7 linked regions of the Homo sapiens genome follow. The protein of the gene in region 1 interacts with the protein of each later gene in a pairwise test. Each region holds a gene or a part of one and is shown on either strand. Other genes may lie near its edges. The genes, in order: TAB1, KIFC2, NXPH3, PHACTR3, NR2C2, LAP3 and ACAP3.

Region 1 (4,575 bases):
TCGAGGCTGCAGTGAGCCGTGATCATGCCACTGCACTCCAGCCTGGGCAACAGAGCAAGACCCTGTCTCAAAAAAAAAAAAAGGTCCAGAAGGCCTGGGGCAGACGCAGACTGTAGGCCCCAGTGACACATGTGCAGTCAAAGTAGTTCAGAGCCCAGGCAAACTCTTTCTTCCTCCCAGAGAGGTTGGTTTGGGGCAGGTTAGGCCCAGCAGGCCAGGAGTTGGGTACTGTAGAAACAAGGGGTGGAGTTGAGCTGGGCCAAAGCTGAGGGCAGCAACTAGTGCCACAAGGGAGGCAGGCGAAGCCAGAGTTGGCATGGGATGGACAGACCAGGCCTGTTGGTCGGTGCTGCCCATGGCTGCAGCAGAGGTGTGAGATGAATTGTGTATTTCCCTCTGAGGACACCTCCTCTGGACATCACCCCAGCGCTCATGGCAGCAGAATGGGCAGTCATCATCACACGGCCAAGCCCGTGCAGAGCTCTGGATGTACCTTCTTTTATGCATTCCCTACTCAGGCCCCCTGAGGCAGTCACTGCCATCACCCCAGAGGCATTTTCATAAGAGGAAACTGAGGCATGGAGACATCAGGCAGCCCACCCTGGTCATGGGGCTTGAACACAGGCAGCCTGAATTTGGAATATGTGTCCTTAACCGTCAGGTAACCTGTATGTGAAGTGTTGGTTGGGGAGATAGGCGCGTCCACTTGCCTGATGCCAATCATGGCATTTAATGTCATGGCCAAGGCTGTTCCCAAAGCCAGAGTTCCCATCAACAGAGGCCTCATGGCCTAGAAAGTGCATGTTAGAACTCCTTGCCCTCACGCGATCTAGGCAACTGAGTGTCGAATATTTGTCCCTAATTTGTGGGGTCCTGTTTCCTTTATTGGAAAGGACATCCATAGTTTAAAACACTTCAGACAGTGCTGGGGTCTATACAGGGAAAGGAAGTCTTCCTACACCACACTCTAGGACTCGCTGCCTCCCCAGAGGCTGCTAGTTTCTTGTGTATCCTGTTCCAAAATCTGGCCACATGCACATATACACACACGGTGTCTCTGTGTGTGTGTGTGTGTGTGTGTGTGTGTGTGTGTGTGTGTGTTTGTCCTGGGGGCCAAGGAGCCTGCATCCTTTTCGGAACACCCAGGTGCTGGGGTGTCTCTCTCTGTGTGTGTGTGTGTGTGTGTGTGTGTGTGTGTGTGTGTGTGTGTTTGTCCTGGGGGCCAAGGAGCCTGCATCCTTTTCGGAACACCCAGGTGCTGGTGTGTCCTGCCCCTCCCAGGTGCTGGTGTGTCCTGCCCCTCCCAGGTGCTGGTGTGTCCTGCCCCTCCCAGGTGCTGGTGTGTCCTGCTCCTCCTTCTTTTCTTTTTTTTTAAACCCTAAGGTGTAATTGGCATATGCAAAGCTGTGCCTATTTCATGCATACAACTTGATGAGTTTGGAGATATGTTTACACACCCCTCACTGCTATCATTAAAGGTGCTCATCTCTTCATTCTGCTCACCTGCAGTTAGGATGGCGTCATTCTGTGTAATAACCGCTCCCAGGGCCCAGCCCTGGCTGACGGACCCTCAGGAAGTTCTTAGACTCCGCTCTTCTGGATGGTGTTGCCAGCACCTCCTCATGTACTTACCTCCATGTGCACACACATGTGTTGGCATGTAATGACTCTGACCCCAGTCACTAAAGGATCCCTGTACACATGGAGAGTATCTGGGGTCTCAGCCATCTGTTTTGGAAAAGCCCAAATAATAGCAAGAGGCTTGGGCTCCCAGGGATAATCCCTCCCTCTTGCTGTCCCACACCCTGCCCTGCCACCACCGGACCCTGTGAACAGGACGTATGGAACAGGCCAGAATCGGGCATTCAACCTTTGCCATCCTGACCTCAGCTGCCTGCCAGTTTTTATGGCCTTCCAAGCTTTATTTTAGCAGCTGCTGTAAGACGATGGGTCTATTTTTCTGACCTTCTCTTTCTCTCTTTTCTTTTCCTCTTGTCAGGTTGTGTGTTTTATTTTACATTCTGGGCATAGATTCCTCCCCTCAGCAGAATCAGCATCCACCTGCGGGCTGTTCCAAGCAAAGCTCTTCCTTCCACTCTCTCCCCATAGCGCTGCCAAGTCCAAACCAATCATCGCAGAGCCAGAAATCCATGGGGCACAGCCGCTGGATGGGGTGACGGGCTTCTTGGTGCTGATGTCGGAGGGGTTGTACAAGGCCCTAGAGGCAGCCCATGGGCCTGGGCAGGCCAACCAGGTGAGTTGGGCCCAGCCACGCCCATGGCCGGAGAGCGTGGCTGGCCTGCATGGTGATGTGCTCACCCTGCCTTCTAGCACTGTGATTCTCGGAGGCCGTCACCAGACATCTCTGGGTTCAAAGCTGGGGGAAGGAGAATCCCAGAGCTCTGAAAACACCCATCCCACCCAAAAACTTGACTCATTTTAGGCTTGAAGCAGTGCCAGTCCTCAGGGCCTGAGCAAGGTCTGAAGGGAAGAGGGGGAGATGGATGTGAATTGCTATGGGCACGGCATTACTCTGAGACGGCCAGGAAGGGGCCAGGGCCAGGAGGAGAGCACAGAAAGAGATGTGCAGAGTCCTTCCCACACCCATCACTTCCTGCCAAGGGCCTGACGGCTTTACTGCCCTCCCTGAGTGGCAGACAATTTATAGTTTGCTTCTCATTTCTTTTTTTTTTTTTTTTTTTTTTTTTTGAGACAGCGTCTCCCTCTGTCACGCAGGCTAGAGTACAGTGGCATGATCTCGGCTCACTGCAATCTCCGCCTCCCGGGTTCAAGCAGTTCTCTGCCTCAGCCTCCCAAGTAGCTGGGATTACAGGTGTCTGCCACCACGCCCAGCTAATTTTTGTATTTTTAGTAGAGACAGGGTTTCACCAGGCTGGTCTCCAACTCCTGACCTTGTGATCCACCCACCTCAGCCTCCCAAAGTGCTGGGATTACAGGCGTGAGCCACCGCGCCCGGCAGTTCACTTCTCATTTCTACAGTGAGGATGGTAACATCTGCCTTTGTGAGATCGCAGTGAGGTTAGGCGTGGTAGACACAGGCCCTCAGCCAAGAGTTGCTTATTTTTCTTATACCTTGGAGTCACCAAAGTGTGACTTCAAGACAGTCACGTTAGGGATGGTCTCAAAGGAAAACTGTCTTTCCCTGACCTCCTTGGATTGCTGACTGGCTAAGATAAGTTCAGTTTGTGTTCCTCCTCCTTTCTGTGATTCTTGTAGGAAGATAACCTTTTCTGCTTTGACTTTTTTTTTTTTTTTTTTAAGACTTGCTGTGTCACCCAGACTGGAGTGCAGTGGCGTGATCACGGGTCACTGCACCCTCAACCTTCTGGGTTCAACCGATCCTCCAGCCTTAGCCTCCTGAGTAGCTGGAACTATAGGTGTGTGCCACCACACCTGGCTAATTTTGGTTGTTTTCTTTGTTTTGTTTTTTTGGTAGAGACAGGGTCTCACTGTATCGCCCAGGTTAATCTCAAACTCCTGGTCTCAAGTGATCCTCCTACCTTGGCCTCCCAAGATGCTGGGATTGTAGGCATGAGCCACTGTGCCCAGCCTGCTTTGTCCTTTTTAATTAAAAATCATGTATTGGCCGGGCACAGTGGCTCATGCTTGTAATCCCAGGACTTTGGGAAGCCGAGGCAGGCGGATCACTTGAGGTCAGGAGTTCGAGACCAGCCTGGCCAACATGGTGAAGCCCCGTCTCTACTAAAAATACAAAAATTAGCCGGGTGTGGTGGCAGGCACCTGTAATCCCAGCTACTCAGGAGGCTGAGGCAGGAGAATCGCTTGAACCCGGGAGGTGGAGGTTGCAGTGAGCCAAGATCGCACCACTGCACTCCAGCCTGAGCAACAGAGCAAGACTCTGTCTCAATCAATCAATCAATATCATGAGGAAAAAGTCTTCTTTAAAATTTGAAAATTAATTTTTATTTCAGTAGCTTTTGAGGTACCAGTATTTTTTTGTTATAGGGATGAATTATGTAGTGGTGAATTCTGAGATCTTAGTAAACCAGTTATTCCAGTAGTGTACATTGTAAGTAATGTATAGTGTTTTATAGTGTACATTGTAACTAATGTATAGTGTTTTATAGTGTACATTGTAACTAATGTATAGTGTTTTATAGTGTACATTGTAACTAATGTATAGTGTTTTATAGTGTACATTGTAACTAATGTATAGTGTTTTATAGTGTACGTTGTAACTAATGTATAGTGTTTTATAGTGTACATTGTAACTAATGTATAGTGTTTTATCCCTAGCACCACTGCCATCCTCCCGCCTTGAGTCTCTAAAGTTCCATTATATCACTCTGTATGCCTGTGCATTCCCATCATTTAGCTCCCACTTACGAGTGAGAACATAGTTTGTGGTTTTCCACTCCTGTGTTACTTAGAATAATGGCCTTCATCTCCATCCAAGTTGCTGCAAAAGACATTCATTCTTTCCTTTTACTGGCTGAGTAGTATTCCATAGTTTATAGATACATTTTCTTTATCTGCTCATTAGTCAATGGCCACTTAGGCTGGTTCCACATCTTTGCAATTGTGAATTGTGCT
Region 2 (3,758 bases), on another chromosome or scaffold:
GGTACCTGCGGTGCCTGGAGCGCGCGGTGGAGACGCCGCGCGCAGCGTCAGCGTGACCAGGGCATGCGAGCGGGAGCTGCGCTGGTTCATGGCGGTGGCGGCGGTGGCCCGGTTGCTCCTCCCCAGTTTCAGCATCTGGAAGGCGGGGCGAAGGGCTGGTCAGGTGCAGGGTCCCCGCCCCCAAGTGGAAGCACGGGGCGGGGTCTCGGAGAGCGGTGCAGCCCTACCTGGTGCAATGTCTCCAGGTTGGGCACGTCCCAGTGGGTGAGGCCAGCCACCTGGATCCCGCCCTGGCCTTCTGGGCCCTGCCTCACGGCCAGGCGCTCGGGAGGCCCTGGAGCAAGGAGGTCCCTGGTGAGAAAGGGGAAGGTCTTGGTTCCAGAATTCTCTGGAAATCCGGAAGGGCCCTGGGCCAGGGGTGGGGAGAAGGCCTCCCTGGTGGAGTAGCCCACCTGACAGCCTCATTGTAGATCTCCACCATGCTGAGTGTCACCCGGTGCTGCCGGCCGGCCCCCATCTCCCGGAACAGCGACTGCAGCGCCCTAGGAACTATGCCGGGGTCCTCAGGAGGGCCCTGAGGATGGGGTGGGGTGCACACCGGGCTCACATCCAAGTCATGCAGGGCCCCTGGGGCCTCTCCCACTGGGGCGTGAGCTCTGTCCCACCTCCATGCTGTAGGTCTTCCCGGTGCCTGTCTGGCCATAGGTGAAGATGCAGACGCTGTAGCCTCGGAGGCAGGACAGCACCGCAGGTTCCAGCTCTCTGAAGACCTGCGGGAGGCGGGAGAATGTGTTTTGAGTCCTCCCCACGTTGCCTGTTTATGCCCTATTTGGTGGGGTGGGGAGTGCCACGAAGGCAGGTGTGAGCAGAGCCTAGTCTCCTGGGAGGATGGCTCTAAGGGACCATGGGGGAGGGTGTGTCCTACAGAGACCCTCTGTCTCCCTAGAGAAGGTGGTGCTTGCAAGAATTTGCCAGGCAAAGAAGGGAAAAGACACAATGAGAAGAGGAACAGCCTATGCAGAGGCTCTGGAGTCCTGAAGACCACGTAGGAGACCTGGGGACAGCAGTTAAGAGCGCAGGTGTGGTGTCCTTAATGTGGAAGCCAACGTGAAAAAAAGAAAAATAAATCCCAGCATTTTGAGAGGCCAAGGAGGGTGGATTGGTTGAGCTCCGGAGTTTGAGACCAGCCTAGGCAATACGGTGAAATCCCGTCTGTACAAAAACTACAAAAAAATTAGCCAGGCATGGTGTTGCACATCTGTGGTCCCAGCTACTCGGGAGGCTGAGGTGGAAGGATCTCTTGAGCCCAGGAAGCAGAGGTTGTAGTGACCTGAGATTGCACCACTGCACTCCAGCCTGATGACAAAGTGTGACTGTCCAAAAAAAAAAAAATACATATACATATATATGTAGTAAAAAATTTTAAAAATGTTTAAAAGAGCCCAGATGGGCTGGGCGAGGTGGCTCACGCCTGTAAACCCAGCACTTTGGGAGGCCAAGGCAGGCAGATCACAAGGTCAGGAGTTCAAGACCAGCCTGGCAAACGCGGTGAAACCCCTGTCTCTACTAAAAATACAAAAATTAGCCGAGCATGGTGGCACGCACCTGTAATCCCAGCTACTTCGGAGGCTGAAGCAGGAGAATTGCTTGAACCCAGGAGGCGGAGGTTGCAGTGAGCCGAGATCACACCACTGCACTACAGCCTGGGCAACAGAGTGGGATTCCATCTCAAAAATAAAGAAAAAAAAAAGAGCCCAGATGTTGGGGCGTGACTGCACGGTTCAAACCTGGGTATGATTGGAGCTTACTCATTGGCCTTCCTGTGCCTCACTTTCCCCTGAGAGATAAGGGCTGCAGTGGCACCTGCTGTGAACACTTGTGGCAGTGCACCTAGAGGGCCGGCCACACCAGTACCTGGCTCACAAGGCGTGACCCCAGGAAGGGCCTGCAGGTACGGGGGATGGTGGCCAGCCAGGCCTGCTGGAGCCCAGGCACAGACAGGTGCTGAGAGAGACACAAGGTTAGGACATTCACCCCATTGGCACTGGACACCAACAGTCTTTTGAGCAACAACATGGCTGGCTTTTATGCCCAGAAGGTCGCTGCTAACAGGGTGGGCTGTCAGCTCTGTTTGAAGACAGCCACAAGGCTAGAATCTAGAATTCTGTGTTCTGTGTGGTCACTGAGGTTCCATGATTGGATGGAGGTGGCACTGAGGATGACATTCAGGAGCACATCATGGCACCACTGCAGAAACAGGAACACAGATGAGGGGCTTGTCCACAGATGCCTTTGGTTCAGACACATTGACTGAGAGGACCCTGTCCAGGACGGCTGTCCAGAGGACGGTGCACAAGGCATGCCCTGCGCAGTGCTGCAGTGTGGGGTGGGGCTAAGGCCAGAGGGATGTGTGGGATGAAGGAAGAAGTGGTTGGAAAAGAGGCAATCAGGGTGACCCTGGCCACCTGCTGGGCAGTCGTCCCCCTGTCCCTGTGAGGCTGGCAGGCAGCCTGGTTGGGAGTCGCTGCCATTCTGCCCCTTACCTAGTCTCCCCTGGCTCTGAGCTGCCATCTCCTTAGCTATGGGAGCTGTAGCAGCAAAGGGCATGTGCAGATGAAAACGTGTGTGAAAGTGGGGTGGGCTGGGGCTGAAGCCCCTGCTTTTCCACAGGTGTCTGGCAGGAAAAGGGTGGGGAAGGAGAGTGGGATCCAGGCAAGGCAGAGAGAGCACACTAAGACTAGAAGGTTGCCTCCTCACCCACGGCCCCCACCACCCACCGCCTGCCTTGGGGCCATAAAGCAATGAGGGGCCCTCATAGCTGGGCAAACCCTGGACCCCAGCAAAGGGGAGTGGGCAGGCAGTGAAGCCTGGGAGGAGGAGGCACCAAGCTGGGCTGCCTGCCCTGCTTCCCAGCCCCCTCGGTTCCCTTTCCTTCCTGGCTAGAGCCCAGCCACCCTCTCTCCTCCAGGTGGACACCCAGACTGGGAAGGGGAAACTGGAGCCTCTCCTGCTCTTCAGGGAACTCTGAAAAAGGGTCAGGATGGCTGCAAAGGCAGGCTGTCACCTCCTCCTGGCTGGCGTCTGGAGGGAAGACCCAGTCTAGGCGGAATCGACGATGGCGCCCCCGGTAGCAGGTGGTGACGGTGCCCCCTGGGCCAGGCTCCACACTCACAAGGCTAGAAGATGTCCCTGGCCTCAGCCGACACAGCACACGGATATTTCCTGCAGTGGGGATCAGGTCAGCATAATGCCTCGCAGACCCTAAAGCACAGAGAAGCTGCACTTCTTCCAGCCGCCCTCCCTGCCCCGCTAGGCTCCCAAGCCTGTCATACCCTTGAGTTCTGGCAGCCGCCCTGGGCATCCGGCTGGGGGCCCTTGCTGCCCCTCAGGGAGCTGAGTGCCAGGCCCTCCAGATGACAGTGCCCCCAAGGCCCAGGACACCTGAGGGAACAGGGATGTACAGAAGGCAAGGGGTCAGCCAAGGAGCTGCGGAGGTGGGGGGTGGGAGGGTCCTGAGAGCAGCAGGGAGCCCCCACAGGCCCGCTCAGCTGTGCTAAGCCACAACTTTCAGTGGCTCTGGGCCCCTGGGGACATCATTGAGTAACCCCAGGATAAAGCCCAGGAATGACAGGCAGGAACACCACATCATCTGTCTCCTCCGTGCTTCTGGGCAATGCTTTAAGAGTTTACTGTCAACCAAGTATGCATAGAATTAAAATAAGGCCCAGAAGTGGAATCCCACCCTGGGTCACACAGAA
Region 3 (4,137 bases), on another chromosome or scaffold:
AAAGAGCTGTTGCATCTTGGTATGGCCCAGGGTGCCTGGAAATGCAGGGGGCTCTGTGATGCTGTCTGGGTTTTGCAGAATCTGTCTCCCTCATCGCACTTGGCCCAGGCTGATATTAAGATTCATCTGCATTCCCCGCGCACCCGCCTGGCAGATGGTGGGGGAGGAGGCTGGGTGCGTGCCGGGGTTGCAGCCACGGGACCAAGCTGGGCCTTGGAGGGCCACAGAGCAGAGTGCCCACCCACCGTGCTCCTTGGGCCCAGCCCAAGCTGGGACCACTTCAAATGATGGGGTGCCTCCTCACCTTCATAGCCTCCAAGGGATGCCAGGACTTGACCTTTCATTTTTCTACAGACTAAAGGGACCCTGGAATTCCAGGAGGGAGACCTGAAGATATGGAGTGGGGGTGATGGAGGATGGGCCCCCATCTTTGGGAATCTCAGATCAGGGTCGTGTTCTTCCTCCTTGCCCTGGAGGTTTGCAGAGACCCCACTGGGACAGGAGCCACTCTCGGCCTGGTGACCCCTGTGGCATAGAGAGGGTAAGTAGTGAATAATGAAGGGACAGGCTCCAGGAAGGCCTTGCTCCCCTCACTCTCCAGCTTCTCAGGACCTGCCCCCGGCCCCAGAATCTAGCCTGGCCCCTAACAGCCTTTTCAGCCCAGGGGCCCAGCCAAATACTTCCTGTCACAGTGGCTGGACCGAGAAGGTCCAGGGATTATCTCAGCCCCTCCAAGTAAAGTAGAAGAGGGAAGGAGCAGACATCATAACAAAAGGAGTGCAGGCTAGACACCCAGAAGGACTTCCCTCAGCACAGGTTTTGGCTCTTAGAATGGGTTTTTTAAAAAAAGGATCTTTCTTAATTCCAGGACTCCTGAGTTGGGGGCAGGGCAGCCGATTCTTGCTGCCCGCTCCCGGGGAACGGGCGCCCTGCAAAAGAGGTGGAAACGGTAGGGTCCGTATCCCCTGGCCACCACCCTCTCCCTTCCTCTCCAAGAGCTACTCCGCCCCCGCGTGCCGTCCTCTCCTGGCTGGAGAGCCGGCGTCCTAGGTCCCCGGGCTGCGGGCCGGCAGGGGAGGAGTTAACTCCGGAGGTACCGGCTGGGCTCACTGTACCTGCCGCCGCCGCCGCCGCCGCCGGTGGGAGGGACGAGGAAGCGGGAGCCGCCTGGGCGCCAGGAGCGCTCTAGTCTGGCGGGGCGCAGCGCAGCGCGGGGAGCGGGCGGCCGGGGCTCCGCGCGGCTGGGGGCGTCCGCCAGGGGGCGCGCCGCGACGGGGCGGGTGGAGCAGCCTGGTTTGGGGAATTAGCACCAAGGACGGGCGCGCGCGCAGGTCCCCAGCACATCTGGGCGAGAGCGGCGCCGCTGGAGCCGAGGGGGGCGCCGAGCGCAGATCTGGAGCAGCAGAGCCACGGCGCAGCTGGGGCCCTTCGAGGCGCTCGGGGCGCACATCTGGGACCTCGAGCGGGGGCCGTGCCGCGCGCAGCTGGACCAGGGGAGGGGGGCGGCGGCTGCACAGCTGGACCGAAGGGGGCGGGGTCGGCCCTGGGCGACCCGCTGAGGGGAGGGCCGCGGGCCGCCGGGGACTGGAGCATGGGACGGCGCGCCTGAAGGAGCAGGAAGGGGAAGGAGGCCTGGGACCCCGAAAAGAGAAGGGGAGAGCGAGGGGACGAGAGCGGAGGAGGAAGATGCAACTGACTCGCTGCTGCTTCGTGTTCCTGGTGCAGGGTAGCCTCTATCTGGTGAGTGGTCCGAGGGGAGCTGCGCAGAGGGGCGGGGGCCCGGAGGATCGGGGGAGAGCGCGGGAAGCTTGCGAGCCCTGAAACTTTCTCCCTTCCCCCGACATCCCGGGGATGGCGGGGAAGACTGGAGGCTGGGGGAGAGGGCGGGTCCGAGGCCGGAGACTGGACAGATAGGGTTAATAGGGGCGGGGAGAGGGTGCTTGGCTGGCCCACCCACTCCGCAGCGGGTGGCTGGAGGTGCGACCAGCGCTCGGAAAAAGGCCTGGAGCCGGGTCGCCAGGGTTACCCTACCCCTTCCCAGAGCCTCAGGACCGCTGAAGCCGGGGGCGAGTGGGGCGCGGGTCGTGGAGCTGGTGACCTGCAGGCTTTTCCCCTGACCTCTGGGACTCAGAGAGCCTCGGGTTCTGGGTCCCCCAGAGCACAGAGCCGGTCCAGGCGGGGGGCGGCCCCCGCGTCCCTCCCCTCCCGCCTTCCCTCCCGCTCCCTCCCTCCCCGCCTGTTGTTTTCCTCTGCTCTCCCGGCTGCGCGCAGCCGGAGCCCCACAGGACTTGGGCAGGCGGCTCCCGCCCCAGGCACTCGCGGCAGCTGAGCGGAGCGCCCAGAGCCCGCTCCCCGTGCGCCGGCTCCGCGGCTTCTCGGCGACCCAGGGCGCCGGGGATCCCCTCCCCGAACCCAGCCCGTGGCTTAACTCCCCTCCGACCGAGCGCCCGCTGACCCTCCCCGCAATACTGTCGTGAAGCCTCAGCCCCACATCTGGACCTGCCCCTTTAATCAACAAGCCCCTTGCCACCGCCCCATGCCACTGTGGGAAGAGCCCTTCCCTTCTCACGGCCCCACCTTTACCCTCCAGCCACTCAGCCGTGACCCTCAGGAGCAAGTACCTACAGGTCTGCAGCCCTAGACCCAGACCCCGAGCCTCCCGTCCTAGCCGTCCCTCTACCCCACCTCTGGGGCCTGGCAGTCAGGGCCAGCCTGAACTGTGGGGCAGAGACAGACTCGGCCACAGCACACAGCTGCCGGCAACACCCAGGCCAGAACACAGGCATGAGGACCCCACAGCCCCTTGGAACCCTACTGTCCCCACCCCAGTGTCACCACCAAATCCAGATGCCCCCCGGTGCTGGTAGTAAAGACACCTAGGGCAAGTGGTTGCTTTCAAAAGCTGAGCAAACCCACAGCCAGGCTGCGCCTCAGGAAGCCCTGTCAACCCCCTGATGCCCCCCACTGCTGTCCCACTCTCCCTGTGGCACCTCCAGGAATCTCCCAGGTGTGGGTTGTCACCACAGCTGATCCAGCAGAGGGAGGATGAGCCCCTGCAGATTCCAGAGGCGGATGGCGCCTGGATAAAAACCCTTTCAAAAAGACACATCTGATCTGTGAGGCCAGGAGTGTGGAGTGTAAAGGAAGGGCTGACCCTATGTGAACTCAGCCTTGTAGTGTTGTAATCTCTGAGCCCCAGTGTCCTTATCTGTGAAATGGGAATAAGAACTCCTACCTCAGAATGCAAGTAACATCGTGGCATGTCATCATCAGTGTACCCTGGAGAGGTGTTTGGCTTTCCATTCCCATGGCCATCCTGGGTGTGGCATTCACTCCGGGTCTCCCCTAGTTCTCTTGCCAAACCTAAACTATATTCGTGCTTGAGAATTACACTGTGTTCTGCTTTCTTATTCCATTGTCTGGTGGTTCTCTTTGCATCTAAGGGTAGAAATTATCCTAGGGTAGGGACGGTGTCTTACCCAACAGACTAGGAAGTCCCAAAAGGCAGGGGCTGGCCTCTCCTGTCAAACCAGGGGCTCTCCCAGGATAAGAATGGTGCTTCCCTGTCTGACTCGGGGCTGTTTCAGAGCAGAGATTATGCCTCCCCCATCAGCCTGGGGATTTCACAGAGGCAGGGATTCTACTTCCTATCAAATTGGGGGCTCTGTCAGCACAGGGATGATGCTTCTGCAATTAGATGGGGGCTCCCCAAGATCAGAAGCTGGGCTTCCCCCATCAGACTGGGGACTCCCTAGGGGTAGGAGCCGTTGTCCCTGGTGCCACAGTTCACTGGAGAGAATTATTGTCGGTCTTTGAGACTTTGAATTTGAATAGTGGCCAAGACAGTGAGGAAAGGACAATGGGGGGGGGGGTGACCCAACTGTCAGAACCTGAGATGTACACAAGCTAGAGTGTACACTTGCCCCCCAGCTTCAGTGGGCAAGACGCAGGAGCTCCTCACCCAGGTCAGAGTGAAGTGGCAGGGACAGGGGTACTGCTGGTAGCGGGGGTGGTGGACCTCCAGGGACAGGGCTCTCACTGTACTCACAACTCCCTCCATAGGTCATCTGTGGCCAGGATGATGGTCCTCCCGGCTCAGAGGACCCTGAGCGTGATGACCACGAGGGCCAGCCCCGG
Region 4 (4,575 bases), on another chromosome or scaffold:
TGCCCTCTCGCCCCCCTCCCTCCACCACTCTCTCTCCCAGCCCTTTTCTCTCCCTCTCCTTCTGTCTCCTTCTCTATTCTACAATCATCTGCTCTCTTTCTGTCTGCCTGGCCTCTGTCTGTCTCCACCAGCTGACGGCAGGGCCTGGCCCGTTTCCCTGTGGCCTGGCCTTGTGTGGCCAAGCAGGTGCTTGTAGAGAAAGCGAAATAACTAAAGTCCTCCACGAGGTTTACAGTTTCCTTTTGGGTTTTGAGGAATACTTTTTATTGATGCTGTCCACATCCCAGGATTGTATTGGAAGTTTGTTTCTGGTTTTTAGGGAATGGGGTAGTTTAGATCTGGTTGTTTTGCTGGTGGGATTAAAGGGATCTGGTGTTTGCACCAGTCCTGCCAGGACGCTTTTGGAATGAGAGTTTGTGCTGAACACCTAAGAGCTTCTGGGCCTGTGCCAGCTGCTAGGCTCCTGAAAAGGAGCTGATGGTCTCATTTTACAGGCAAGTAGGCTAAGCCTTTGAGAGCTTCAGTGACTTGCCCAGAGTCTTGCATACTGGGAAATGGCAGATCAAGACCAGAGGCCAAATCTGCAGAAGACAAAGCCCATGCTCTCTGCTCTTCCGGGCACCTGACACCCTGCTGGCCCGGAGCACATGCAGGAGACTGTCATTGATGGAAGGAGGGGGTGTCCCACTCATTTAGACTTGAATGAGCAAAGCCTGTTTAGAATCATCTTCAAAGTCATTTCATGTACACAAGTGTTTATTGCCCGTGTTTTAAGTGCCAGGCCTGGGGAAACTGTAGGAAGGAAGGTGGACACAGGCCTGCCCAGGAGCAAGAAACAGACTGGGCAGCGTGATTCACTCCAAGTAAGAGGAAAAGTGTCAGGGCAGGCTCAGGTCCCAGGGGACAGGAGACGAGGGATCTGATCATGGCCTCTCTAAGGAAATGGTATTCTAGCAGAGGAGCGGGGAAGCATTTCAGGCAGAAAGAACAGCCCATGCAAAGACTCAGGTTGGACGGAGTGTGGTGCCTTCAAAGACGGGAGAGATCTTCACATGCTGGAGTGAAGAGAGTGAGGTGGAGATGCAGCTAGGGAGCCGAGTGGGGCCACCCCCAGGGGCCTTGAGACTGGGCCATGAGTTCGAATCATGTCCTAAGGAAGATGGGAGAGTGATCCAATTCACCTTCTGGGGTGATCCTCCTGGCAGAGATACAGGGAGAGGGTTGGAGCCCAGAAATTTATTCCTTACTGTTCTGGGGGCTGGAAGTGCAAGCCCAAGGTGCTGGAACAGATGCTGTGGGGAGGGCAGAGCGGACCATGGTGCTCATCCAGGCTGAAGGGTGGCTGCACAGATTCTTCCGGGTTTCCCAAGAACAAGAAGCAGCTTCAGGAAGCTGAATTCATAGCAGAGAAGCAGGAAGGAGGCTTTTCTAAGCCCAGCGCCCTGCAGGGAGGATGCTGGTGCTGGTGTCTGCAAGGCTTGGCCCCTAACAGGGTTTGCCCTACAGATGGAGCAGAACTGGACAGAGATGCACCCTGGCCTCTAGCTTTGGGAGCAGGGATCCCGGTCCAGCATCTTGGCATTAGTTGGGGCCCCTCCTGGAGGTGCAGGGGAGCGTCCTTTCCGCTCATGGTCCCCAGTCTCAGCAAAACCCTTGGTCCCAGCTCCTGAAGACCTATGTTCTTGCTGCTTCCTCCCACACCCCAGGCCAAGCCACACTCTTCCAAGCCTCCAGCATGAAGAGTGCCGACCCTTCCCTCCGGGGCCAGCTCTCCACACCCACGGGGTCTCCGCATCTCACCACGGTCCACCGGCCTCTTCCCCCAAGCCGCGTCATTGAGGAGCTGCACAGGGCGCTGGCCACGAAGCACCGCCAGGACAGGTGAGGCCCTGCCCCATGAGGGAGACCTGTGCTGCCAGAATCCCTGCCTGGCCAGCCTCAGGCTGTGCAGCTCATGCCACGCCCAGGGCCTTGGCTGGGTGTCCCGTTCTACAGTCACTTTCTGAACAAGGAAGTCACATTTTCATTTTGCACCTCGCTCTGCAGATTGCATAGCTGATCTTGGTTCCCACATTCTGGGACGGGGTGCACAGTGAATGTGCACTATGGGAACCTGGCCACAAAGTCCTGTGCGTGAGCCCCTCAGGACCCAGGGTGGGGTGGGAGCTTTGCAGGAGAGACTGACTTAGAGAAAAGTGGCCGTTCCACTTTGTCCCAGGACACTGAGGGCTTCATAGTTGTCACTGGGCAAGAGTGTAAGGCAGCCTGTGCCTGCAGCTTACTCTTATTTTGGATCACATGTGTCTCATGGACTGTGAAAGATTAGAGGTAAAATAGGTAATAGGAGACAGTATGGGTTGGAGGAATATTAGACAAACAAAATGTCCTTCTCAGTTTTTGTGAAGTCCTCGCCCTGAACATTGATTGCATGTATTTTGGCAGGTTTTATTACTTGCATGTTCTGTGCTTTTCAAAACAGCATGTTGTAAACAGCCATTTGCCTTGAACTCAAATCCTCATGCTCCTTCTGGTGTGTCCAGGATAAAAACCAAGAGGTCACATGCATTTTGGGGCTGCCTCTGTGATATTCATTATAAGCTCCAAAGTCAATCGTGCTGGGTTTCTGGGTGAAGGGGGTGACCTATAACCTGAACCATCTTTCTGGTTTAGTTTTCAAGGAAGAGAAAGTAAAGGGTCTCCAAAGAAGCGGCTGGATGTCCGTCTGTCGAGAACGTCCAGCGTGGAGCGGGGCAAGGAGAGGGAGGAGGCTTGGAGCTTTGACGGGGCATTGGAGAACAAGCGAACTGCCGCTAAGGAATCTGAGGAGAACAAGGAGAACCTGATCATAAATTCTGAACTCAAAGACGACTTGCTTTTGTATCAGGACGAGGAGGCGCTGAACGACTCCATTATTTCTGGTGAGGAAAGGATGGCCCATTAAGTGTGGGGATCTCGGCCAGAGGTCTAGTGTCACCAGGGGGTCGAGGACAGAGCTCGTGCCTGGGGGAGGAACAGGTCGAGGGGCTGCACCTGGGGAGAAACAAGAGGGGGGCTGTGTCCTCTGGAAATGAGCTTCTCCTGAAACAAGCTGGGGTGGGGGTGCACAGCCAGGCTTAGAGCAAGGAACTAGAAAATACCCCGGTGAAATTGTTTTGAGAGTTGCATATTAGTTTTCATGTGTATGTGAAAAAAAAAAACAACATAAAAGTGGTGAAGCAAGTGACTTAGAGAATGCCACCCCTGAGGATGCTGTGGCGAACAGTATATAGTTGGTGTACAGATGCTCAGTGTACAGAAGTTATAGCAAAAACAAAAACAAAAAAAAACTGTAACAAGTAAAGCAGGACGAGATGGAAGCAGGGGGAGAGGGAGGAAGAGAGATTGCTCTATTGATCTCAAATGGCCGTCTCAGAAGTGCTGTGGATGGGACAGGCAGCATACGCTTGTTTGGGAGCAGATGCTCACAGGGTCCTTGGAAGCCAGCTCCGTATTTGTCCTCATGGTGCGTTCTCCCATGAGGTAATTGCTCCATCCTACCCTTGAGGACTCCGGGGCTCGGGACGATAGAGGCCTGCAGACCACCCTGTGATGAAGGGAGAAGGAGGCTCAGGCCAGGAGGAGGAAGTGCTGAGGGGGTTTCCCTCCCAGCTGGTACTGGCTGTGCGGGGCCCTCTGATTAGTCCCAGGAAGGTCCAGGGCGGCCGTGGTGTTTGGCCTGCAAGGGAAGGATCAGGAAGCGTCCGTTGCTGTTCTTCCTGGAAGCATCTCATGGTGACTGTTGCGGGCATGGGCAAAGCTCAGGCCACGTCTCCCTGGGTGTCTGTGGGGAGCAGGAAAGGGCATCAGATGTCGGTGCTGACCCTGGCTGGTACTGAAGGCATGCGGTGGGTACTGTGATGGGTGGATAGACCGGCAGCCCAGGGCTCCATAGCCTCCCGCTTCCTGCTGCTTTGGAGCCTTTCCACCGGGTCCGAGGAAGCAATTCTGAGTATGTGGCTGCACAACATGAAAGGGGTGGGGGTGCTGTCACCTGTGCGTTTGGAGGAGGCTGACTGCCACCGCGGAACCAGTGTCTTTGTGGCAGAAACTAGGAGCTGGTCACTGGCCTGAGGGCACCAACCTCTCTGAAGAGGCTGGAGCCTGTGGTGTTCCCAAACTCGTTAGGCCCTGGAATCCTTGCCCTTAAACACCTGTGAGCCTCCAGCAGGAGGGTGCTATGAGGGTGCACTTCTGAGTAGAGCTGGTGTTGGGATGGTCAAGGGCTAGAGCACGGTCCCTCAGCCTCAGCGCTGGTGGCAAGAGGCCAGGCGATTCTCTGCTGGGGAGGGGGCTGTCCTGGACACATTAGGATATCCTGCAGCATCCCTGGCCTCTCCACACTGGATTCCCCCAGTGAAGACAATCTAAAATGTCTCCAGACTTGGCCAGATGCCCCTGAGGGGCAGAATCACCCCCAGCTGAGAATCACTGGCATAGTCTGTGCCCTTGGTTTGGGGGTGCCCTTCCATAAGTCCCTTATCCACTCCAGGACACAATGCTTTCATTGGTGAAGAGGGAGATGGGAACTGCTTCCTC
Region 5 (4,575 bases), on another chromosome or scaffold:
TACTAGCAGTGTGATTTTGTGTAAGCTACCTTTCCTAGCCTCACTGTCCTCATCTGGACAATAATAGAGCCTTCCTTCCTGAACTGAAGATTAGATGAGTTAATGTAAATAATAGAGCTTAGAAAAGTGCCTGACATGTAGCAAATACTGTGTAAATAGAGTTATTGTTGTCATTATGAACTACTGGTATAGACATTGGACTAATTAAGTGATATAAATAATGAAATTTTTATGCAGTGTGGTGTAGGGGCAAAAACAATAGATTCGAACACCGAGATTCTAGTTTTGGCTCTGTGCTTGCAGCTAGTTACATGGCATCCAGGACAAAAGTTTGGAAAACAAAATAATGGAACTAAATAGTACTAACCAAAGTATAGGGTGCTTTATGATTTACAGAACTCTCTTACAGGCAGTATGTTGTTCAGGCGCCACTAGAACCCACGTAATGGCAGAGGCTTCCTGTTCCATGTTTAAAAACCTTTCCAAGGCTTTTCATTATTTTCTTATCTGTGGTACCCCTAGCTTCCTGTGCTCTAGACACACTGGCCTACCTTCAACTTCCTTGACCAGTGTAGCTTACAGTGTAAGCTTACCCCCCACCCCCACCCTACCTCAGATATTGGCTCAAGCATCACTTCTTCAGGGAAGTCCTAATTCCCATTGCCAGTCTAAATCAGATTCTTTTTATTCTTTTCTTTATAATCTTTATCTCACTTTATAATTACACACTCTATTATGTGATTATTTGATTAATGTCTGTCCTTACCACACTGTAAGCTGTGAGAGCAGGAATACATTTTGTTTACCATTACTTATCCAGCACTTAGAAGAGTGCCTGGCACTATTTGTTGAATGAATTGTTGATAATTTATGATGTCACTGATAACTAAGTTGCTGTACATTGATGGATACCTTTTGTGTGAGCCTCTTTGGCAATTCAGATAGCACTGCCAGCAATAATAAGCCTGTTACGGTATTTGGTTGAATTTAGCAAGTGATTTCTGACAGATATGCCACTTTCTGGAGACATAAATATGGATAAAATGACCCATTTCAATAGTTTTTCCCACTCATTTTTTTATGATTGAATTACAAGTTTAAGTGCATGAAAGTTAATAAGTTCATATGTGAAGAAATAAATAGCCCAAACATAACTTATGTTATTTACTTTAGCTGAAGAAACGAAGCACTAAGCTACCATGATTTTCTTGAAATCAAATATTCTGATTTTTGTCTCACCATCACAGGGGATTGGAGAGAAGGAACAAGCCTCCAGTGGGTTCACAGGGAATTGGGAGTTGAAAGTCTCTGTAGCCATTAATTCGGGATATTTATCTTTCTAAAGATAAATTGATTCATTTAATGAAATTATTGAAAATCACCTTTTAATTGCTTTACCAAGGTTAAAAGCAAATTTTGTTAAGTATACATCAAGTTTCTACTCGAAAGTGTGGTAAATAAAACATTTGTATTAACTTATTTTATATTGTAAAACTTTTAAAATAAGATATTGTTATGGTATTTTAAAAATAATAATAGTTTAACTGTTTATTTTTGGGTTTTTTTTTCTGTCTTGCTCAAAGATTTTTGGTATCACTTGTTCAATTCCTTAAGCTAATTACTCAGGGTAACCAAAGAACTGCTAGTTTAGTAAAACAGCTATATGTTGTCTTACATCGTTAAGTTATTTATTGCTTTCAGTAGTTGTATTCACAGTGACTTTTAAGTTTTGTTTCGTGATCATTCTTTTATAGAAAATCCCTGTGCGTAACAACCTCCTCACTTTATGAGGATGGCTGGAAGTTTTTTTTGTGTGTTTTTTTTTGTTTTTGGGAGTCTCGCTCTGTCACCCAGGCTGGAGTGCAGTGGTGCGATCTCGGCTCACTGCAAGCTCTGCCTCCTGGGTTCACGCCATTCTTCTGCCTCCGCCTCCCCAGTGGCTGGGACTACAGGTGCCCGCCACCACGCCTGGCTAATTTTTGGATTTTTAGTAGAGACGGTGTTTCACCATGTTAGCCAGGATGGTCTCAAACTCCTGACCTCGTGATCCGCCTGCCTCGGCCTCCCAAAGTGCTGGGATTACAGGTGTGAGCCACTGCGCCCAGCAACTGGGAAGTTTTTAGCATCTGTCTCCAAGGAGTAACATGGCAAGGGCAGTGCAGTGACAGAGCTTGGGCTATGAAGGCAGAAAGGCCTGGCTTCAGAACCTGGAGTTGGTAGCCTCTCTGAGGCTTATAATTCCCCATTTGTCAAACAGGGAGGTGGGAGCCAGCATTGAGATTGGGGCCAGGGATAGCGGATACTTGTTGTCTGAATGACTTTGAGAACAAGGGAGGTGAGTCTTTGTGGAGCAGCCCTGTCTTCAGCCGTGGCACTGAGCCACTGGTCTGTGTCTAGCTGCCTGAGTGTCTCCACATATCGAGGGCCCTCCGTTGGGATTTTTATTGTTGAGTTCTCTTACCTATAAGCCATACGCTCCTTTAGTCCCAAACCATCTCCTGTACAAGTATCATCTTAAAAAATACCACACGGGGGGAGTCCGTGAAGGAATCTTAGAATCTCAGAATTGGAAGTGGTCTAGACCCCAAGTCCAGCCTTGATGTAAGGATCCCCTGCTAGATTTTCGTTTACCTCTTTTTACTTTATTGCTAATTATGAGGGCCTTAAATGATGCCTTTTTTCTTCCCTGTGTGATCATCATCTTTAACTTAATGGATACATTTGTGCTCCTGTTACACATTGTAAAAGATATGTTCTTCCTTATTCGTTGGAGGTTTGCTTGCCTTCAACTTAATATGCCAGAGGCTGAGATTCTCTGTCATTCTCTCCCATCCTGCCACTCTTTCCCCATATCCCACTATTGCTACCCGAGGTAGCAGTCCTACTCCCCTTGCTCACTTCAGGTCCTGAGTGCTAGAGAGTAAAGCAGCAGGAGCTCTATACCAAAAGGAAGAACTGCCCAAGAACAACAGCTCAACTAGCACAGCTCAACAATGATGAGGAGTGGGAATGACTAGAGGGATGAAAGCCAGATCAGGGCATTGGCGTAGGCATTTGTTAAAGGTACAATAAATGCAGATGCAGACCCCTGGTACCTGGAAGTCTTAGAATAGAAGGATGGGAGGTGAATTGTTAAGGACAGAAAGGGAATAGGCTAGCTCAGACACTTAACTGTTTTTTCTGTGTTACCCTTGGACTCCAGTTGGCCTGTAATGATGAAAGTCAGCCTCAGAGGCAAGTGTGATTTTTTAGGGGCAATAAAAAGTACCTCCTTCACTGTAATAAGAGGCCTGAAGTCCTTTAATAGGAGGTGAAACTTTCTATTCCATAATTATTAACAGTTACCTCAAAGATTCTAATCCCTGAAATGTTAACATGTAGATGGAGAGGAATTTCATTCCAAGTGCCCAAGTGTAAAAGAATATTTCCCCCCTGTTTGCGTTAGTGAGAGGTGTGAGAAAAGGTCTTGGGGCCTGGAAAATGGGGTGACTGCTGCTGAAAAGTGAAGAGAAATGAGAGGCTGGTAGGGCTAGACTCAAGCCTGAAGGCTTCCTGGTTTTACAGGGAGCTGCTTTATTTACCTTTGTTGTTCATATGTTGATAAAAGCTATGCAGGGGAAAAAGTTTCCTACCTGACTGCCCACCCATGTTCCTTAAAAAGAAAGATTCACGTATGGCCAGGCGTGGTGGCTCACCCCTGTAATCCCAGCACTTTGGGAGGCCAAGGCAGGCGGATCATGAGGTCAGGAGTTCAAGACCAGCCTGGCCAACATAGTGAAACCCCATCTCTACTAACAATACAAAAAATTAGCTGGGCGTGGTGGCAGGCGCCTGTAATCCCAGCTACTCGGGAGGCTGAGGCAGGAGAATCACTTGAACCCGGGAGGTGGAGGCTGCAGTGAACCAAGATCACGCCACTGCACTCCAGCCTGGGCGACAGTGCGAGACTTCATCTCAAAAAAAAAAAAAAAAACAACTGAGGCTGGATGGCTCTTGAGAAGTTACACAATACTAGCGGGCTTCATGCTGCATTTCCCCCAGTGTATTTGTTGTATAGTGAATCTGATTAGGTATTATTTCTAGAACATTTTGGATATGTCATTTGTACCACACTCGTTCTTGTCCCCTGTCCCACCACTATGGTGTCTGTAATGATGCATCTTTTTATTAGGTTGATAAGATGACTAACCCTGGAATTGAAAAATCATTTTTTAATTGATTGCTTTACCAAGACTAAAAGCAGATGTCACAAAGTATATATCAGCTTTTAACTGGAAAGGCTAATAATTAGACTGTGTTGTTGACTTATTTAATATAATACAGATTTTTAAAAATAAAATAAATTTATAATATGTCTTTTCTAAAGAAATAAACAATGTACTTTCTCGAGAATAAAAATTAAAAATAGATAAAAGTAAAACAGTTAATTTTTAAAAATAGTAAAATTTTCAAACGAAGAAAAGAAAGCAGTACATCAAAAGGCATGTGTGAAAATGTTCATAGGAGCACTAATCATAAGGACTCCAAACTAGAAACAATCTAAGTGTTCATCAGCTATAGAATGGAGAAATAAAT
Region 6 (4,575 bases), on another chromosome or scaffold:
ATTTACGTTTTTTGCTTATTCCCAGGGCCTTGTTTTAGGAATCTATTCCAAAGAAAAAGAAGATGATGTGCCACAGTTCACAAGTGCAGGAGAGAATTTTGATAAATTGTTAGCTGGAAAGCTGAGAGAGACTTTGAACATGTAAGTGTTGCTTGTGGGCTCTAGTTCTTAAAGTGCCCCCAAATCGAAACAGTATTTTTTCTTTCTTTTCTTTTTTGAAACAGAGTCTTGCTCTGTTGCCCAGGCTGGAGTGCAGTGGCACGATCTTGACTCACTTCAACCTCTGCCTCCTGGGTTCAGGTGGTTCTCGTGCCTCAGACACCCAAGTATCTGGGATCACAGGCATGCCTCACCACTCCCGGCTTTCATATATATATATATATGTATTTTTTTTTTTTTTCAGTAGAGTTGGGTTTCACTGTTGTTGGCCAGGCTGGTGTTGAATCCCTGGCCTCAAGTGATCTGCCTGCCTTGGCCTCCCAAAGTGCTGGGATTACAGGTGTGAGCCACTGTGCCAGGCCAAGAATATTTTTCTATGCCTTTTTGTCAGAAGAGACAATGCCGGGAAGTGCTCTGGCCAGAAGCAGAAGTGAAAGCCTGTGTCTTTGGAATGCACTTTGGTACTTTCTGTTTCAGTATGGATGGGTCTGCAGTTCTGGGAAGTCAGGCCATTTCCAGCCCAATCAGAAATCTATTGTGAAAGACTGATCCAGAATAATCTGGAAAGTACCAGATTTCCTCAGCCCACCCTCCTGGCTCAAATTCACTTTCCCCACCCTCTTCCTCCCAGCTGCCTTCCCACCAGCCTCTCTACTTCTTTTAACTCCCCTTTTCTTGTGAGAGCAGGATCCCTAGGATAGTTAATAGCAGCCTAAGGGTTTTGCTCTTTTATTGCCTGCCTGAAGTTTCAAGGGCTTCTCAAAATTTAAAATATCTGTGAATCACCTGAGGATATAGTTAAAATACAAAAAGTCTCCATGGGGCTGGAGATCCTGATGGTAGGGAAACATTGTAACTGCATGCTGTATTTGGCAGACATGGAAGTATCCATGTAAACCACTGCAACTATGTATTATTCGGATTATAGATAGCCTATTGGAACCTAATAGATGCAGTCTAATAATTATAGTAACTAATAATCGGTTAAGAGAATTTGTATCTCCTCTCAATTTTTTATCAGTTCTTGTAGTACACAGAGCATTCTCAAGTGCATTGATTAATTCATTAATCCAAAAGCTAACCTGTGAGTACAGAACGCCTGCCTTGCTAATGGATGGCTGTCAGCTGCATTCCAGAGCATCTGTGCTACGGGCCTCTTATAGTCATGGATCTGTTTTGTTTGGAAATTGCCCAGGATAGTCAGTATCCGGTTCGGGTATCCAGTCTGTGGAGAAACCACATAGATATACAACCTCCAAGCCAACCACCACTTAGATTACTGCAGTGTTTTTGGTGTCTTGTGGCTTTTATTGAAAAAGGTTTGAGATTCATTCGGTTCAGCGTCAATCCGTGCTCAGATGCCTTGTGCAGCTGTAGCATTGCTTTCCATTGTTTTTAAATATGTTTGTGTTAGATCTAATCTGAAAGTTTGTTAAATAGTTTTTGAGCTAGAATTAGAAAGGCTACACCTAAGAAATCTGGGCTGGGCACGGTAGATCAGCAGTGTAATCTGTATTACACCTGTAATCCTAGCACCTCGGGAGGCTGAGGTGGGAGGATTGCTTGAGCATAGGAGTTTGAGACCAGCCTAGGCAACAGAGTGAGACCCTGTCTCTATTTAAAAAAAAAAAAAAGAAAGAAATCTGGCTTGAGAGCATTCTGTATTTGGATAAAAACATAAGTGAAAAAGACCATGGAAGCAGTTAGCAGAATAGTGTGATAATGCCGAGTATGTAAGTGTGCCTTCCCAAGTGAACCGAGCAAAATACTTGTTTTAAAACGACTATTTCCTCTTGTTTTAGATCTGGACCACCTCTGAAGGCAGGGAAGACTCGAACCTTTTATGGTCTGCATCAGGTATGAGAAGAACGTGATCATTTGGTAAACCCTCAATGAGCATCTACTGTACACCAAGTATTGGGGCTGTCTAGTCATACTAAACATTATGTGTTGGATTGTATGATTTTATTCCACTATTAAGCAGAACATTTAAGATTAAGAGGCGATTTGCTGTCAAAAACTACTGCCTATCTTATATTCCTCAATCTGAAGGCTTTCTTTATCCGGTTGTGGCTCTGGCTTACACAGAATTATTTGCAAGAGTATCCTCACTTACTCTGCCTCTCAAACCTATAAGTTATACAATTTTGCCAGGACACAAAGGTTTTAAGAAAAAAAAGCCACAACCAAATTTCACCGTGCGTTTAGCCCTGTTGCTGCAGTTAAAGTAATTGTGTGGGAGCTCAGTGAGTCTCCACATGTAGAATTCCTTGCTGGAAATGAATGCTTGAAAGAAATAAAGTGGTTGATTTGGTGTATCTGTGGGACAGGACTTCCCCAGCGTGGTGCTAGTTGGCCTCGGCAAAAAGGCAGCTGGAATCGACGAACAGGAAAACTGGCATGAAGGCAAAGAAAACATCAGAGCTGCTGTTGCAGGTTATTTCACTTTTTAAGTTTAAAGAATCCTGAGGATCCACTCTTTTTGATGACCTCTCTTTCCCCTTTTTGTCCTTTTACCAGTTGCCACCCCTTACCACGTTCACACAGAAATAATTCATCTTAACAAAAATTCAGTTCCTCTTGCTGAATATGGTTGGCCTTATGATAAATACAGAAGGTTAGCTAATGGAATTTTATTTTTAATATATCTATATCTCATTTGGGTGTTTTACTACCATTTGTTCGCTCTTGTCATATTAGAGCTGTGTTTTCCCAGAACCTGTAGTGTATAGATTTTTTGTAATGCCACCCTGATGCCTCCCGACTTTTAAATAACACAGAGTCATCAGATTTTACAAATAAAGAGACTAAGGAAGCAAAGCGTGGCGTGCTTGTTTATCACTAGCCAAAGGTGTGTGCCTGTCCCAGTATGTCCCAGGCAGGGGCCATTGAGTCACTTAGCATTAAGCAGCAGGACGGGCCTAATACCGTCAAGAGCCATGATTAAAGATGCTTTGTAAAACATTTCTGAAACAGTGATAATTGGCTTGATTACTATTTAGGCCTGTGTATATTATAAATGCTCATTAACTTTACTTCAAATATCATTGAAGTGGTTATTTAATAACTTTTGAGAGTTTTTGCTGACCTGATCTTAATAAAATGCTGTGTTAATAATGGACTTTGCTCAGTTCTTTGGATATAATTTCAGCGTCATCATTTCCCTGTCATTTTTAATCAGAGAAGCTCTTGGCAATTGGGAAGCTTCATCAGGAAATCATAGTGTTTCAGAAATAATCCTAGGAATAATTGCCACTTCCTGAGAGCCTGTACGGCTCTGGGAGGAGCTATTCATTCTCTCCATCAGCCTGTCCTCACCACCACCTGGGAGTGAGGTACTTGCTGTAAAATGCACTCACGTCTTCATTTTACAGAAGAGGAAATGAGGCTCAGAACATTCGGGTATCAGGGCTGGGATTTGAACCCCAGGGCTGTTTTCTCAGCACATCACATCATGCCTCTGCTGTCTGCTCTTTGAGTTGTCTTGGACTGACTCCAGTTTTCTGATTCCTCTGTCTTTTCAAGCGGGGTGCAGGCAGATTCAAGACCTGGAGCTCTCGTCTGTGGAGGTGGATCCCTGTGGAGACGCTCAGGCTGCTGCGGAGGGAGCGGTGCTTGGTCTCTATGAATACGATGACCTAAAGCAAAAAAAGAAGATGGCTGTGTCGGCAAAGCTCTATGGAAGGTGATGGAAGCAAATTAGGAGGAGGGTGGTGCTCCCTGGCGTTCTGACAGCCTGGCTTTTGGGATATGAGCTGCCTGCTTTTCAGCGCCACCCACAGCTGCGTGGCTTGGCTGTGACCTCCCCATTGCCTCAGCCATTTTAATAATGTGGTCAAAATTAAGCCCAAGCTCTGCTCCTGGCTCTCGGCATATGTCTGATTCCCCCATGACTCCCTGACCCCTCCCTGCTCTGATTACAAGGAAGCCATAACCAGGTAGCTCTTACCTGAGAGGGAGGAATGACATGACAGACATATCCCACAGGTTTCAACCCAGATAATGTTCATTCATTTACCTGGCACCTGCTGGCCTTGTGCTAAATGCAAGCACCACACAGATGAAGAGATCCTCTGGATGCTTGGTCCTTGCCCTTGTGGGCTAGTGGGGTCCCTGCCATCAGGAATAAATAAGATGAGACCTTCAGCAGATGGTGCCAAGCACAGTGGGGGCCCTGGCACTGGCCAAGGGTTGGCAGCTGTGGGGAGTGGGGGAGAGTGCGGGCTCTGCAGCCAGTCAGCATGGGCTTAAGTCCTGGCTTCACCACTTACTCGTTGGGGGACCTTGCTGGTTACGTGGCTGAAATCTCTGTGCTTCATTTTCTGCATTTGTTTACTAGAGTTGTAATACCGATTTCATGGGGTTTGTATCATCATCCAAAAGAGCACATCAAGTAGGGGGCATGTGGCAGGCCTT
Region 7 (3,776 bases), on another chromosome or scaffold:
ACTGCCCCTGCAGTGGGCACCCTGGATCGTAAGTTCCGCCGAGACTCCCTCTTCTGTCCCGACGAGCTGGACTCGCTCTTCTCCTACTTCGACGCAGGGGCCGCAGGGGCTGGCCCTCGCAGTAAGTGTGGGGTGGGCCCAGCCAGGTGGCAGGGCAGGGCCAAGGAGGCTGGCCTGAAGGGTGCCTGAGTGTGGATGGCCCTTGCCAGGGAATGGAGCAGCATCTGAAGGGGCGGGGGGCCTCCTGGCCACACAGCTGGAGGCCAAGGCCCTGACTGTCAGGGGTGAGCTGTGCAAATGTGTGTGTGGGCTGTGTGCACCTGGGTGTGTGCACACAGCGGGTGGCCCGGGGTGCTGGGGAAGCAGAGGGCGCTGCCAGCCGGCCCTCAGCCTAGGGCCCTTCTGGAGCCATGCTGCCCGTTGGTTGGGTGGAGACATTTCAGCCTGGGCCAGCCACAGACGGGGCTGGGGGGCCCACTGCGGGGGGTGCCGGGTAAGGCGGCGAGCGGGAGGGAAGGGCTTCCCAAAAGGCCTGGGCTTTAGGGGGCTACCCCTGGCACCTTTGAGCTGTTATTTGGTTTTCTCTCCTTTGCTCCTAGCCTGCAGCTGGCTCCCCCCGGCCCTGGGTGGGAGCTGGTCCTGTCCCTAGGGGTGGCCCCTGGAGGGTGGGTGGAGTTCCAGCCTTGCCCCAGGGCTCTGGACGGAGTCTGGGCCTCCCACCCTCAGGACCCCCTTCCCTGCGGACCTGCAGGTCTGAGTAGCGACAGTGGCCTTGGGGGCAGCTCGGATGGCAGCTCGGACGTCCTGGCTTTCGGCTCGGGCTCTGTGGTGGACAGCGTCACTGAGGAGGGTGGGTGGCGTCTTGCCCTCGCCCGAGGCCCCTGCCCAGCCCCTGGGCAGCCCCGGGGGTTGCTTTCCCTGACCGCCCCCTCCCCACAGAGGGTGCAGAGTCGGAGGAGTCCAGCGGTGAGGCAGACGGGGACACTGAGGCCGAGGCCTGGGGCCTGGCGGACGTGCGCGAGCTGCACCCGGGGCTCTTGGCGCACCGCGCAGCGCGTGCCCGCGACCTTCCTGCGCTGGCGGCGGCGCTGGCCCACGGGGCCGAGGTCAACTGGGCGGACGCGGAGGATGAGGGCAAGACGCCGCTGGTGCAGGCCGTGCTAGGGGTGAGCGAGCCACGGGGGCTGCGCGCAGGACACAGGTGCACAGTCGCGTTTGCATCTTCTGTGGCGCCCACACAAGGGTCGCCTGTCCGCGGTGGGGACCACGTTCGGTCCCGGCTGGGGGCGCCCAAGGCCGGGGTCAGGGTGCAGAGGCGCGGAGAGGGGCCGGTGCCGTGGCTCCGTCTGAGTTGCCCCGGCTCCCCAGGGCTCCTTGATCGTCTGTGAGTTCCTGCTGCAAAACGGAGCGGACGTGAACCAAAGAGACAGCCGGGGCCGGGCGCCCCTGCACCACGCCACGCTGCTGGGCCGCACCGGGTGAGACGCGCAACCCACGCCCCGCCCTGTGCCCCGACCACGCCTACCCCGGCCCGGCTACGCCCTGTCCGCCATGCCCTATCCGGCCACGCCCCCGCGACCACACTCGCCCCGCCCCGCCCCGCCCCGACACGCCCCTCCGACCTCGCCCCTCAGCCAGGTTTGCCTGTTCCTGAAGCGGGGCGCGGACCAGCACGCCCTGGACCAAGAGCAGCGGGACCCGTTGGCCATCGCAGTGCAGGCGGCCAACGCTGACATCGTGACACTGTGAGCGCGGCCGGGCCCTCGGGGCTGGGCGGGGCCTCCAGGGCAGGGGCGGGGCCTCCAGGGCAGGGGCGGGGCCTCCAGGGCAGGGGCGTCTCACGCTGTGCCTCCCCGTAGGCTCCGTCTGGCGCGCATGGCGGAGGAAATGCGCGAGGCCGAGGCTGCCCCTGGTCCCCCGGGCGCCCTGGCGGGCAGCCCCACGGAGCTCCAGTTCCGCAGGTGTATCCAGGAGTTCATCAGCCTCCACCTGGAAGAGAGCTAGGGCCGGGCAGGCCGGGCAGCTGCCACCCCGCCCGGCCCGACGCCCCGCATGCCCCGAAGTCCCTGGCGCCCACCCGGCCGCGGCCCTGCGTGTGACCCGCGGGTCGATACCTGGCAGCCCCAGTGCTGGGGCGCCGCGGCCCTGCTCGCCCAGGAGGAGAGCGAGGGCCCCACACTGAGTCTCTTGAAGCCTCACGTTTCCCTGGGGGGGTGCTGCATCGTCGGGTGTCCCTCACCCCACCTGGGGAACCTCTGTCTTCAGGTCACCCCTTTTCAGGGGCCTGGGTTGCTCATGTCACAAGCCACTTTTAAGGCCCGTGTCACCTGTGTCCCTGTGTCCTCAGGGCCTGTGTTACTTCGTGCCCCACTTCTGCCCAGAACACTGACCTGTTAGCTGGCTCCCTCCTGCACACCCCAGAGCCTCCTCCCAGGGCAGAAAGGGTGGCCCATCCAGGGAACCAACGAGTACCTCACTTAGTGACCCCAGCATCCAGGCTGGCGTCGCGGGTGCTGGGCGGGAGGGGCTCTGGCCTGGGTCCTCAGCCCTGGCTGGACGCGGGCGTCCCAAGGCCACGTGGCTGGCCACGAAGGTCCCCGTGCCAGACAGCCCCAGCCGCATCCCGGCCTCCTCCGGAGGCACCTTCTCCTGGTACTCGGCCCAGAGCCTGCGCATAAAGCCACTTTGCCACTTTGCAGCCCTCATCTCATGTTCTTTGTAGCGGACCGAGTGGGTTTGCTATAGGCCTCGTCTGACTTTGTCTTGCGTCTTTTCTCTGTGGACTCTTGAGGACGCCTGAGCCCCAGCCCTGCCCCTGACCAGCCTCCCCCTTGGGTCCAGGGGTCTTTCGGCTCATATTGCAGGGCCTGCCAATGCCTTCACGCACCCCTTCCCCAAAGGTGCCCGGCAGGGAGGCAGGGCCTCCCCCACTCAGCGCAGGTCAGGCTAAGGCCAGTCGGCTGGTCACTATGCAATGCTGCCCTGGGGAGGCTCCCTGAGGGCACAGTGGGCGCTGGACCCGGCCCCCCAACTCTCTTGCCTGCTGCCTGTGACCCTGAAGAACAGAATTGATTCTTGCCCCTCTCCCTGTGTGAGCTTGGCCCCGCCTCTTGCCCCAGGCCCCTGCTGGCGGGTCTCACCCCCCACCCCTCGCTTTGAATAAAGCACTTGCGCCCACTGCCTGCTCCTGGGCTCCCGTGCCTTGCTCTGCTCTGTCTCCGGGGAGTGTCTGTGTCCCTTGCCCTCCCCGAGGGGCATTCCTGAGCCGGGTAGCACTCACTCAAGTCAGACTCCAACAGGCCGCAAGGGGCCTGATGGGGACCTGGGGCTCGTTTGACAAAATCTGGGTCCTGATGCCCCTGGTCCCCATTGTCTCGCCCTTCTACCCTTCTCTGTCCTAGACTGAGTTTCCTGGTGGGAAGAGGGGTGGACGCGAACCGGCGAGGCTAGGCTGGGGCTCGTCCCGCCAGGTGCAGTCAGGGTTTCAGCTCACCGGGCGCGGGGCGGCTGGAGGGGCACACAGGCACACACTGGCCGCCAGGTGGAGTCAACAGCTTTATTTCAGAGCAGCCCAAGTGTGTCCGTGGGGCCTGCCTTGCCTTCTGCCTCCCTGCAGCTGAGGTGGCTAGGCTTGACACACGTACACAGGTGCATCAGACGTGTGGACATGCAGACACAGACACACGGAGCATGGGTACATCACCGCGTGTCGGCACGTCCAGCCGCACTCGTGTGCACGCGGGAACCCCCCTCCGCCCCGGGCCTCCTTGAGACCC

Evidence for each region.
Region 2: the proteins of TAB1 (region 1) and KIFC2 interact in a two-hybrid assay, tested with the Homo sapiens proteins (one large-scale study listed by BioGRID and IntAct).
Region 3: the proteins of TAB1 (region 1) and NXPH3 interact in a two-hybrid assay, tested with the Homo sapiens proteins (one large-scale study listed by BioGRID and IntAct).
Region 4: the proteins of TAB1 (region 1) and PHACTR3 interact in a two-hybrid assay, tested with the Homo sapiens proteins (one large-scale study listed by BioGRID and IntAct).
Region 5: the proteins of TAB1 (region 1) and NR2C2 interact in a two-hybrid assay, tested with the Homo sapiens proteins (one study listed by BioGRID).
Region 6: the proteins of TAB1 (region 1) and LAP3 interact in a two-hybrid assay, tested with the Homo sapiens proteins (one large-scale study listed by BioGRID and IntAct).
Region 7: the proteins of TAB1 (region 1) and ACAP3 interact in a two-hybrid assay, tested with the Homo sapiens proteins (one large-scale study listed by BioGRID and IntAct).

What each region holds. Positions count from the first base shown.
Region 1 is NC_000022.11:39,419,718-39,424,292, forward strand, and holds part of TAB1 (TGF-beta-activated kinase 1 and MAP3K7-binding protein 1), read left to right. Parts: intron 1-2,109; coding exon 2,110-2,254; intron 2,255-4,575. UniProt on the Homo sapiens protein: Key adapter protein that plays an essential role in JNK and NF-kappa-B activation and proinflammatory cytokines production in response to stimulation with TLRs and cytokines.
Region 2 is NC_000008.11:144,468,954-144,472,711, reverse strand, and holds part of KIFC2 (kinesin-like protein KIFC2), read right to left. Parts: intron 3,442-3,758; coding exon 3,333-3,441; intron 3,223-3,332; coding exon 3,065-3,222; intron 2,248-3,064; coding exon of another isoform or gene 2,122-2,247; exon of another isoform or gene 1,683-2,121; intron 771-1,682; coding exon 666-770; intron 575-665; coding exon 453-574; intron 352-452; coding exon 228-351; intron 136-227; coding exon 6-135; intron 1-5. UniProt on the Homo sapiens protein: May play a role in microtubule-dependent retrograde axonal transport. May function as the motor for the transport of multivesicular body (MVB)-like organelles in dendrites.
Region 3 is NC_000017.11:49,574,534-49,578,670, forward strand, and holds the start of NXPH3 (neurexophilin-3 precursor), read left to right. Parts: upstream 1-1,337; 5' UTR 1,338-1,686; coding exon 1,687-1,740; intron 1,741-4,062; coding exon 4,063-4,137. UniProt on the Homo sapiens protein: May be signaling molecules that resemble neuropeptides. Ligand for alpha-neurexins.
Region 4 is NC_000020.11:59,771,573-59,776,147, forward strand, and holds part of PHACTR3 (phosphatase and actin regulator 3), read left to right. Parts: intron 1-1,706; coding exon 1,707-1,881; intron 1,882-2,670; coding exon 2,671-2,918; intron 2,919-4,575.
Region 5 is NC_000003.12:14,949,939-14,954,513, forward strand, and holds part of NR2C2 (nuclear receptor subfamily 2 group C member 2), read left to right. Parts: intron 1-4,575. UniProt on the Homo sapiens protein: Orphan nuclear receptor that can act as a repressor or activator of transcription.
Region 6 is NC_000004.12:17,579,799-17,584,373, forward strand, and holds part of LAP3 (cytosol aminopeptidase), read left to right. Parts: intron 1-25; coding exon 26-141; intron 142-1,961; coding exon 1,962-2,016; intron 2,017-2,489; coding exon 2,490-2,595; intron 2,596-3,684; coding exon 3,685-3,844; intron 3,845-4,575. UniProt on the Homo sapiens protein: Cytosolic metallopeptidase that catalyzes the removal of unsubstituted N-terminal hydrophobic amino acids from various peptides.
Region 7 is NC_000001.11:1,291,792-1,295,567, reverse strand, and holds the end of ACAP3 (arf-GAP with coiled-coil, ANK repeat and PH domain-containing protein 3), read left to right. Parts: intron 1-13; coding exon 14-121; intron 122-751; coding exon 752-850; intron 851-939; coding exon 940-1,166; intron 1,167-1,368; coding exon 1,369-1,478; intron 1,479-1,634; coding exon 1,635-1,745; intron 1,746-1,859; coding exon 1,860-2,004; 3' UTR 2,005-3,177; downstream 3,178-3,776. UniProt on the Homo sapiens protein: GTPase-activating protein for the ADP ribosylation factor family.